Linked DNA regions of Homo sapiens: region 1 is linked to region 2. Evidence: fine-mapped expression QTL. A gene starts in region 2. The other region holds a variant in brackets. All regions are shown on one strand. Distances are from middle to middle.

Region 1 (5,372 bases), 24 kb before region 2:
GTCTCCATGGTCTATCATTCCACTTTCTATGTCCATGTGGACACACTGTTTAGCTCCCACTTATAAGTGAAAACGTGCGGTATTTGTCTGTTTTGGAGCTGTTTCACTTAAAATAACAGCCTCCAGTTCCATCCATGATGCTGCAAAATACATTATTTCATTCTATTTTAAGACTGAACAGTATTCTATTATGTATATATACCACAGTTTCTTTATCCAATCATCTGTCCATTGATGGGCATCGACTCCACATCTTTGCTATTGTGAATGGTGCTGTGATAAACATACAAGTGCAGGCATCTTTTTGGTATGATTTCTTTTCCTTTGGGTAGATACTCAATAGTGAGATTGCTGGATGGAATGGCAGTTCTATTTTTAGTTCTTTGAGAAATCTCCATACTGTTTTCCATAGAGGATGTACTTATTTACATTCCCACCAACAGTGTATAAGCATTCCCTTTTCTGATGGAGGTTGTATTAAACAGGTGTATTTGTCAATTCATCAGATAATACTCTTTTTTTTTGAGATGGAGTCTCGCTCTGTGGCCCAGGCTGGAATGCTCTGCCTCCCGGGTTCACACCATTCTTCCTGCTTCAGCCGCCTGCCACCACGCCTGGCTAATTTTTTGTATTTTTAGTAGAGACAGGGTTTCACCGTGTTAGCCAGGATGATCTCGATCTCCTGACCTTGTGATCTGCCCGCCTCAGCCTCCCAAAGTGCTGGGATTGCAGGCATGAGACACCATGCCCGGCCTTCTATTTATTTTTTTATCAGATAATACTCTTAAGATTTATTTCACTTCATCTAGATCTTACATCACAAGAAAATACAGCAAATATTGAACTCTAGTTACTATGTAAGTATACGTCTGAACCCTAAAACTTCAGCATACATAGTAACTAGAGTTCAGTATTAGTATTTACTATACTTTCTCAGCAATTTATGTTTTGTAATGCATCAATTATAACAAGCTGGACTGATGGATAGAAGGATTGGGGGGTTGATAAAGCAAACCAAGTAAAATATAGATGACCACTATAGAATTCTTTCAACTTCTTAAAACTGTTTGGGAAAGAAGCAAAACGACAAATAGAGACCATTTTTAATGTATTCTGGCTGACACCAAATTCAGTCATTGAGTAAGACATTCCTGGACCGTTTATGTCTATTGCACTTTTAATTATGCCAACTGTGTTTCTTCACACTGTGTAGGCCACACAACCTATGAAGCACAGGTACTTCACGATTTACCTTGAACATTTCACCCCTACGGGGTTCAGTGGCTACTGACATTCCCTGCCTTCTCACACAAGAGCCCATAAGCCGTGATGGGGAGGCCTCCACCACAAATAAATGGCCTGAAACTTTCTGGTTTCTCCACATTTTCTAATAGGACTTTGATTACAATTAGATAATTGGAGCTGGTATAAGAGCTGGGGCCTGGTCTTCACTCCAAAATGCAGGGCCCCTGGTGATGGGGATGAACCCTCACACCTGCTCCCTTGATGCCAATCTTCCAAAATTAAAACCTGGGAGTCTTACACACCTTTTCTTAGTAAATTTGGCAATGAGAGTGCCTTTTGCAGTGGTGGTTTGTGGCTGCAGGAGTGTTTGTAACACATGTGAGAAAGTCACATATCTGATTCTCCCTTAATTCTCAGAAAACCGATCCCCCTGAAGTTTCCCCTTTTCACAAATGAGGAAATAGAGGATCACATCATAAATCGCTCTGAAGCACACAGCTTGAATTCAAACCCATTTGAACCTATAATTCTGATTCTCACCTCTCACCCCACACTGTCCTGAAACTACATATTTCGTGCCAGCAAGAAAGGAAATGCTCATCTAGAATCAAACTGGGCCAAGGATCATTTAAGGCAGTGGCTTTCAAACTGCAAAGTGAAAAACATTTAGCAGGTTCTGACTAGCAACTTTCTTAAAGAATAGAAGACAAACCCAACTTCATCATGTTTAAGAATAAATTCTGGTCCCCAAATTTATTTCCTTTCATATAAATATTTATATGCATGTGTTTCTTGCTGTGAAGATATAGCCCAGAAAAGTTAGAAAGCTATGGATTTAAAAATTGGCTCCCTCTAGATCTGGGGTTTGGTTTCTCAG[G/A]TTTGAAAAGAATACTAGCCATGAACGGGCTGAGAAACGAATGTTCTGAGAAAGGTGGCACTGAACAGGTGCCCCTGGAGAAAAGGCCTCGAGCCTTCTGTGGGAGAGGGATGCAGCTTCACCCCCAGCAGCAGCGGCAGGCACCCAGGCTGTGTGCGACCACATGGGGGGAATCGCTAACACAACTTCACCTCGGCCTTTCCTCGCAGCACTTCACTGGGGTGCTGACAATAGAGAATTTTCATTTTTGATAGTCTGTATCAACTTAGGAGTCACCTATTTTCACTGCCATATTCCATAACTCATACCCCCAACTGACAAAGCAAAACTTGAGAGCCCTGATGCTGACCACTTTATTTTTTTTAAATTTATCTATTTTTGTTTGTTTTTTGAGACAGAGTCTCATGCTGTCACCCAGGCTGGAGTGCAGTGGCGCAACTTCGGCTCACTGCAACCTCCATCTCCCAGGTTCAGGTGATTGATTCTCTCTGCCTCGGCCTCCTGAGTAGCTGGGATTATAGGTGCGATTAAGCAACACTGTAATGAACATTATTCAGCCATGTCTCCTTGGATTCATACAGGAGTCTGTTCAGGGCATATAGTTGGAAGTGGAATTGCTGAGTTGTCATATATACATATGTCCCACTTTACAGCAACACAAAAATGAACTAAGACACCATCCAATGAACACCAAGGGTTTATCTCCCATTACAGGATCTCAGAAGTGTTTGTGTGAATAGACTAGCACAATAGTTCTAGTAGATGTGCAGAACAGACTAGAACTGCTAGGTCCAACCTCTTTACTTTACAAAAGCAAAGGCTGAGTCCCAGAGAGTATGGAGGTGAGGAGCTAACCTATGGACCCCCTGCAAATGCGGAGGGAGGGATTAGGTGTGGGTTTCCTGCAATCTGGTCTCCATTATTCCAGGGGCCACTTCCTTTGTTTCAGTGAGTAAGACATTCCAGTATGTGCTGCAAACAGTGCAAGCTTCAAGGTGCATGGGAGGTCTTGGAGCCTCCAGCTTCAGGAAAGCAATGAGAATTTTGAAAGCTTGCCCCATAATTAGTTCTCCCCAACAAACTTAATTCACCTGCCTATAATACAGTCCAAACAATCAGTCCCAACTCCGTTCCAAAAAAATTTTAGTTGAGCATTTGCAGTGTGCTCCAGCGCCAAGTGCACAGGCTAACACATACATGAACACATATAACACATCACGTGCAGTACCGATGCCTGAACTTTGGCTTACACAAGCTTGATTCCTAACTCGGCCTCCCACTGGCTGTAGGATTTTGGACAACTTGTTTGACATTTGAACCTCAAATTCCTCATCTAAAAATTGTGGATAAAATTTGTACTTACCATAAAGGTTTTTGAAAAGTAAATGAGTTAATACATTGAGGTGCCCAAAAGAGTCCTTAGCCCATATGTATTTAGAAAAGATTTAGGGTACTTACTTAGTGTTAGTGCTGGGTGAAATAAAGACAAGGCCCTGGCCTTCCGGAGTGTGTACATTTATCTGAATGTCAAATAAAAATCTCAGAAGTGGGTGTGGTTTCCAGTCAGAGGGAGTGGTAGGTAAACATGCCAATCTAGAGGACATGGAAGAGATAAGAGGCCCCTCACCTCGAGGGGCTCTTTGAAGGGCCAAGAAACACACTCAGGAAACAATCCTAAGCAAGGTCATACCCTCAGCACTGGGTCCAGGCTGGGTCCCAAGGCTTCAGCAAACACTTACTTATTTTGGGAACGATACAGTCTCAGACGAACCAGGTCCCTAGAGGCACTTAGGGAGATGAGCCTCAAGGACACACATGTGCTGGAAACAGCACAGGCGCGTGGCATTAACAAGCCCTGACCCACGCCCTGCCCCTACTCCCCTCCCAACAACGCCCCTGTAGATGCCTCACCAGCGACCTGCCAGCTTCCTGGAGATCTCGTCCCCCTTAGATTCTTGGACACTGTGCCTCCTGGTTCTTCCTCTGCCCTGGCAGCTGCCCCTTGGGTTCTCTCTCCTGTCCTCTAGATGTGAGTACCTACCCCCCACCCACCACCCGTCATGGGCCTCACAAGCACCTCATCTCTAAAATGGAGGCACCTATTATGAGGATTAAATAAAAGCTCTGACACAACTTTGTTCGGTCCCCTTCTCTGGGATGTTGCCATTCCCAGGCAGCTGGGCTCAACAGCCGGGCCCCACCCTTGAATACTCTTTTTGCCCACCCACCAGAGCCATGTCTTGTGCTCTACCAGCTGGGCCTCGCTCCCCCTCCACTCTACCTATACTGCCAATGATGTAACATTACCAAGACACCCCTCAAAACCTTGCATTTACTCCCCAATGCTACTGCAGAGATTAAATGTTTTAGGCTTGCATTCAAGGCCTTCAGTGACCTAGCCCTAATCCACTGGACCTTTCCAACTTGAATCTCCACCGTGATCCTTTTTCCCCTGCCTGATTAAATCACTTGCTGGGTGGTGTACCATAAAATAAGGATTCTGGGCTGGGTGCGGTAGCCACGCCTGTAATCCCAGCACTTTGGGAGGCCGAGGTGGGCGGGTACGAGGTCAAAAGATATAGACCATTCTGGCTAATGGAGATCACGCCACTGCGCTCTAGCCTGGGTGACAGAGCGAGACTCCATCTCAAAAAAAAGTACTCTGTATCCAAATAAGATGATTAAACAAAGCTTAATAGGTTTGTATTGCAGGACTTCTGAGCCTTTAATTCCTTAATATGCACTGTGGCAGCGGGCGCGGTAGCTGTAATCCTAGCACTTTGGGAGGCTGAAGCGGGCGGATCACCTGAGGTCAGGAGTTCGAGACCAACCTGACCAACATGAGAAACCCCATCTCTACTAAAAATACAAAATTAGCCGGGCTTGGTGGCACATGCCTGTAATCCCAGCTACTCCAGAGGGTGAGGCAGGAGAATCACTTGAACCCAGGAGGCGGAGGTTGCGGTGAGCCGAGATCGCATCATTGCACGCCAGCCTGGGCAACAAGAGTGAAACTGTCTCAAAAAAATATATATATATGCACTGTGACGCTCCATACTTTGTCCAAGTCTATTTGGATTTCTAGTACTTTTTACATGGGGCTCAAGAAAAAAATCTAGGTCAATCTGCACTACACTGTCCCTCCCACATGCCTACACGGCGTCCGGCGTCCCAGTTAGAGCATGCACAGGTGAGCCACAGAGCGGCTCCCACGGCCTACAGTTGTGGCCACGTGAGGTACGTTTGTTGT
Region 2 (5,372 bases):
GCTTAATAATCGCAACTCCATAAAGTGGACAAGCCTACTGTTATTATTGCATTTCACAAAGAGAAACGGGCTGTCCAAAGAGGCTCAGGGTGCTATGGTTAATAAACCACAAGACAGAGATTACAACTCATTTCCAGATACCCTGGTTAATTCCCGTTCCACTCTGGGGGAAGAGAGATGACCCCCATTCCAAGATTGAGAGTGGTATAACTCCAACGGGGTTCCAACCCTGGTGCCCTCCTCTGGATTGAGGAAGAGTAAATTTATGCAAGGATTCAAATGTCCTGGGGTAATACCCAAAGGAGAACTCCCTGAGATTAATGACGCTCCACTGTGTATTTTAGGACTTGCCAAGAGATGATAGCCTTCCCCAAGAGTTCTTAGAAGTTGAGAAGTTACCAAGATCCTGCCAGCTCAAATCAAAGGCACGTTTTTAAGTAAACTGAATCAAGGTGCAGAGCCACATCCCAGGAATTAGAGAATAACAGCCATTTACAAACAGTAAAACCCAAGTAAATCAACCGCCTCTGCTCGCTCCTCCAGACTTGAGGCTGGGTAACTTCTGCTTTTCTTGGAGGTTCACGCGCCATCACTACATTAATATGCCTCCTATGCCCTCGGGACCGCCAGAATGGGAATATGAGCAGGTTGTCGCACAGAACGGTAATGGCAAGACATTTTCCCAAAAATGTGTTCCCATCAGATATTGAAATTCCAAGTATGTAACTGAGCAACGCTCCGTTGCCTCACAGCTCTTAAAACAACCTCCCTCCAGCTAATCCCCTCCCAACTTGTCCCCTACCTCAAATCGTAGCCCAGGCCCGGGCCAGGAGCCAATCCCCTAATCCCGGGCATTTCAGAAACTCAATTCTGAGCGCGCCCCTGGCCCTGCCCGTCCCCGGCCCCGGCCCCATCCCCACCCCCATACCCCGAGGCGGGGAATGAGAGCTTCCCGGCTTGGCCTGAGGCTCTTTCTTATGTAAATGACCCGGCCGCGGTGAGCGCTCAGCCATAGGGAGCTGCGGAGCCAGGTGGGAACAGACAGGTCGAGGCTTAAGGAAAAAAAAGCTCGTTTTCGGAAGGACATAAATCTCAAGAATCTCAAGTAATCCAGGAACGCGGCGCGTTGGCCTCTCCGAGTAACTTTTAGGGCAAACCAGAAAGTAACAACCAAAGTCCTCCCCTTACTCAGAGGCAGATCCTGAGGACACGAGGCTGGGCGGTCCCGAGGCTGATTTGGAGGGGCGGGGGTTAATGGGGGACGCCCCTCGCCGAGCCTCAGTTCCGGGCGCCACAGTTCCGGGGAGGGGGCGCGGCGGGCGGAGTTCCTCTGCCCCTTTCCTACTCCTTCCCGGGTCAGCTTCTCCTCGAGCCCACCCCCGCAGGGCCGCGGGGAAGGAGAAGGGAACCGCTCGTCTCCTACACGCGGTCCGCGAGCGCGGACGGCCCCCGGCGGCCCCACGCGGCAGCGGAGCAGCCTCCCGCAGCCACGATTCTCTCCACGTGCTCTCGCCGGAACTCGCGCTGCAGAAGGGGGCTCCCTCCCACGTGGGCGCAGCAATCCCTGACTACCTGCGGGGTGACCCGCCCCTCCAGTAACAGGGAAAAAGGGACTGGGGGAGAGAGCGTGAGCGCGTGCCGGAGCTCAGGGAGGGAGGGCGCCCGGCGGAGCGCGACCTCGGCTCCCCGCCCGCGCGCACTCGCCGGCTGTGCTTAGCGGACGTGGCTCCTGGCGCCCAGGAGTGTCCCGGCTGCCCAAACTTTTTCCGCTCCCAGGCCCGGAGTAGGGAGGAAGCGGGTCCCCGCAGGGTCGAGGAAGAGACTGATGGAGGCCAGACCACTTTGCCAGAGCCCAGCCTGCCGCCCCGCCCGCGCTGACTTACCTTCTGCACTTGGTCATGGTTGAGCTCCGTGAAGAAGTAGGCAAGCAGATGCGAGGCAATCATCCTGCCGCGGCCCGACGGCGCAGAGTTGGGAAACCGAGGCGGAGACGCGAGAGGGGAGGCGGGCGGCGCGGTCCGACTGCTTTGTGCTGGGGCTCGGCTGCCGGGCCGGGAGCTGGGAGTCCGGACGGCGCACAAAGAAGGCTACCGGCGAGGGTGCGCCCGGCTGGCGGAGGGCGCGGGTCTCCGGAGACGTGATTTTGGCGTCACAACTGCTAGAAGGCGCCTCAGTTCTCTCCTGGCGACGTGTCCGGTTGTCCCACGTCAAGGCGCTAACTTCGGCCACAGGATCACTGAGGCTCAACTTGAGAAGAATCTCAGCCCGGCTCCACTCGGGCAGTGGGACCTCTCCGATTCACAGGCGCGTGGCTCGGGCCCGCGGATTTTCTTAGCTGGGTGACACGATGTTGCCAGCGGCAGCCCGGGACTCCTGCGCCGGAGTTTCATGCAACAATGTGGCTTATTGAGGGGCTGCCGGCCCGCGGGCCTCCGGATCAGTGACGTGCGCACGCCCATTGGCTGCGCGGGGAGGGTGTGTGCGCCCACGGACCGCCCGCCGCCGTGGCGCAGCCAATCATCGCTCACGGCTCGCGGGCGCGGCCGCTCAGACACCGGAGCCGGCAGCCTGGGGAGGCGCGCCGGGGGCGGGGGGCGGGGGAGGGGCGGGGCGCCTGAGATGGGACGTGTGGTCCGTGGCTAAAGGCTGGGACGGAAAGGCGCATGAGCCACCGCCGCGTCAGGCTCGGCTATGGGTGGGGGGAGCGTGATCGCGGACCCGGGGTGTGGGGCGACTGGAAAAACGGGCCTCTGGACCAGCACACGCCCTGTGCGGAGAGACACTGTCTGGCATCTCGGGATCATGTGAGGGGCTCCCACTGCCCAGTCACACGTCTAAAGCATCCTAGTTCTTACCTATTGTAGCACGGCCGGAAAGTGAGCCGCCTTAGCTGCTGATTGTACTAGAGCAGGCAATACAAGAGTCGGCCCATCCTCAAAACCACTGATAGGATGTGAGTTTCACTAACCCCGTTTTACAGATGAGGAAATTGAGGCAAGGCCAGGGCTCACACCTGTAATCCCAGCACTTTGGGAGTCCAAGGTTGGAGGGTTGCTTGAGACCAGGAGTTCATGACCAGCCTGGGCGACATAGTGAGACCCCCATCTTCCCAAATAAAAATAAATAAATCAGCCGGACATGGTGGCATGTGCCTGTAGTCCCTGCTGCTCAGAAGGCTAAGGTGGAAGGATAGCTTGAGCCCAGGAGTTCGAGGCTGCAGTGAGCTATGATCATACCACTGTACTCCAGCCTAGGTGACAGAGGGAGACCCTGTCTCAAAAAGAAAAGAGACTTACACGAGGTCACATAGCTAATAAGTGGCAGATAGGGAAGAGAACCCTTGTCCCTCTACTTTAAGGCCCTATTCGCTTGCCCCATTATCCCATGCTGCCTCTCTAAGAGCCAGAGAAGTAGGAGGTAGAAAAAGAGCATCTCTGCAGCTCTGGGACTGATGATGTGAATGAACTGGGTAGATGGTAAGTGTGTAACTGGGTGATCTTGGACATGGGATGGGGTGGGTGAGGAGGCTTACCAATGCTGAGAGGAGTGGAAGCTCCAACCCCAGCTAATGCTAGACACCAGACTCCAAATTTAAACACACAGTGGAAACTGGCAAGAATGAAATACTGACTTCAATACAGATTTCAAGAGACATGACATTAGCACTGGTGGAGAATGGCAAGCCTAAGGTTGGAAAAGGTTCAGGGAAGGAAGATGAAGGTCTGCCATGTTCTACTGAGGAGGAGTTTTTCAAACAGTGGGGTGCTGTCTGCAATGTGTACAGCCTTAAAATTATTATATAAGTAATCAATACTCATTGTTGAAAAATAATATATGGATAAACAGGAAAAATAAACAAAAATCATAATCCATCTAGCCTCTCAGCAAAACTTCCTTTTTTTTTTTTTTAAAGCAGGGACTCGATATGTTGCCCAGGCTGGTCTTGAACTCCTGGGCTCAAGCAGTCCTCCCACTTCAGCGTCCCAAATAGCTGGGATTACAGATGTGCTCAGCAAAACTTCTTGAGAACTATGTACCCTTCTAAATGCACGTCCTCAACCCTCCTTCCCTATACTCCACACAGAATTGAGCTCAAACTGCTTTTGTCATAGTCATCATAATGACCTACATGTTGCCAAATCTTGCATTCTCTTCTCTTCCCTGCCCTTGTCTTACTCCTTCTCTCAGGGATGTTGAGGACAGTTAATCACATCCTCCATCTGGACACACCTTCCTCTCTCAGTAAGAGCACCAGTGCTCCACTCTGAGGGTTTCTGGCTAACCTCACTCCCCAGGCTCCTGAGTCCCTGTTTGCTCTATTGGTAAATGCTGGGGTATTCGGGGCTGCCCTCCACCCTCTTCTCTGAACTAGTTACAGTTTCAAACTCCCTGAGGAGAAACTAACTTCCTAGCCCCATGACTGTTATATCATATGCATGCTGATGACTCACCATAGTAAATCTACAGCGAGGTCCTCTCCTGGAGTTGCAGGCTTATTTCTCCAGCTTGCCATTTGTCATCTCCACTGAAGTGACTAGCATATCACACTTAACATGTCCAAAGCTGAACTCAACTTTTTTTCCCAAATCTTTTTCTTTCCCAGTTGTCTCAGCAAATGGCATCGCCATCCACCCTAACTCGTCTTCGATTCCTTCTTGCCACTCACCCTCACAGCCAGTCAATCCATCAGCAAGCAGTTAATTCCACCTATAAAACAGACCGTGCATCTGACCACTTATCTCCATGCCCTTAGACACCTCCTGAGATCTTCCCACAGAATACTGCTTGGCATTCACACTAGCATGCTTTCCTCAAAAATACAAACTCTTTCTCACCCAAGGGTCTTTGCTCTTCCTTTTCCTTCTATCTAGAATATTCTTCTCCAGGCCTGTCTCCAACTCATTCTTCCTCCTCATTGACGTTCCACTCAGATACCTCCTCATGATGCAGGGCAGGCAGGCCCCAAAATTTGGACTTAGCCTGGGAAGATTTTTGGCTTCACCCAGTAAAGAATTCAAGGGATGCCGGGCGCGGTGGCTCACACCTGTAATCCCAGCACTTTGGGAGGCTGAGGTGGACGGATCACGAGGTCAGGAGATCGAGACCATCCTAGCTAACACGGTGAAACCCCATCTCTACTAAAAAAAAAAAAAATACAAAAAATTAGGCGTGGTGGCGGGCTCCTGTAGTCCCAGCTACTCGGGAGGCTGAGGCAGGAGAATGGCGTGAACCCGGGAGGCGGAGCTTGCAGTGAGCCGAGATCGCGCCACTGCACTCCAGCCTGGGCAACAGAAAGAGACTCCATTTCAAAAAAAAAAAAAAATTCAAGGGCAAGCAGGTGGCATTAGACAGCAGCTTATATTGAAGTGGCA

The links. PIP is the estimated chance that this variant, and not a neighbour inherited with it, causes the effect.
Region 1: its variant is the best candidate, but not a certain one, in a credible set for the expression of HK2 in monocytes (BLUEPRINT, PIP 0.53).

Annotation. Positions count from the first base shown.
Region 1 is chr2:74,854,787-74,860,158 of GRCh38, reverse strand. All of the region lies in intron 2 of HK2 (hexokinase 2), which reads right to left. Among named protein-coding and RNA genes, the nearest start is that of HK2, 23 kb to the right of the region's middle. RefSeq lists an enhancer at 3,974-4,514. The variant G/A (reference allele first, on the strand shown) is at 2,123.
Region 2 is chr2:74,831,155-74,836,526 of GRCh38, reverse strand. HK2 (hexokinase 2) reads right to left here and starts at 2,400. Exons shown (of 18, transcript NM_000189.5): 1 at 1,884-2,400. The coding sequence starts at 1,946. It overlaps HK2-DT (HK2 divergent transcript), which reads left to right and starts at 2,540. Exons shown (of 1, transcript NR_185897.1): 1 at 2,540-3,872. RefSeq lists enhancers at 959-1,028, 806-1,682 and silencers at 1,259-1,508, 2,429-2,658, 2,839-2,908.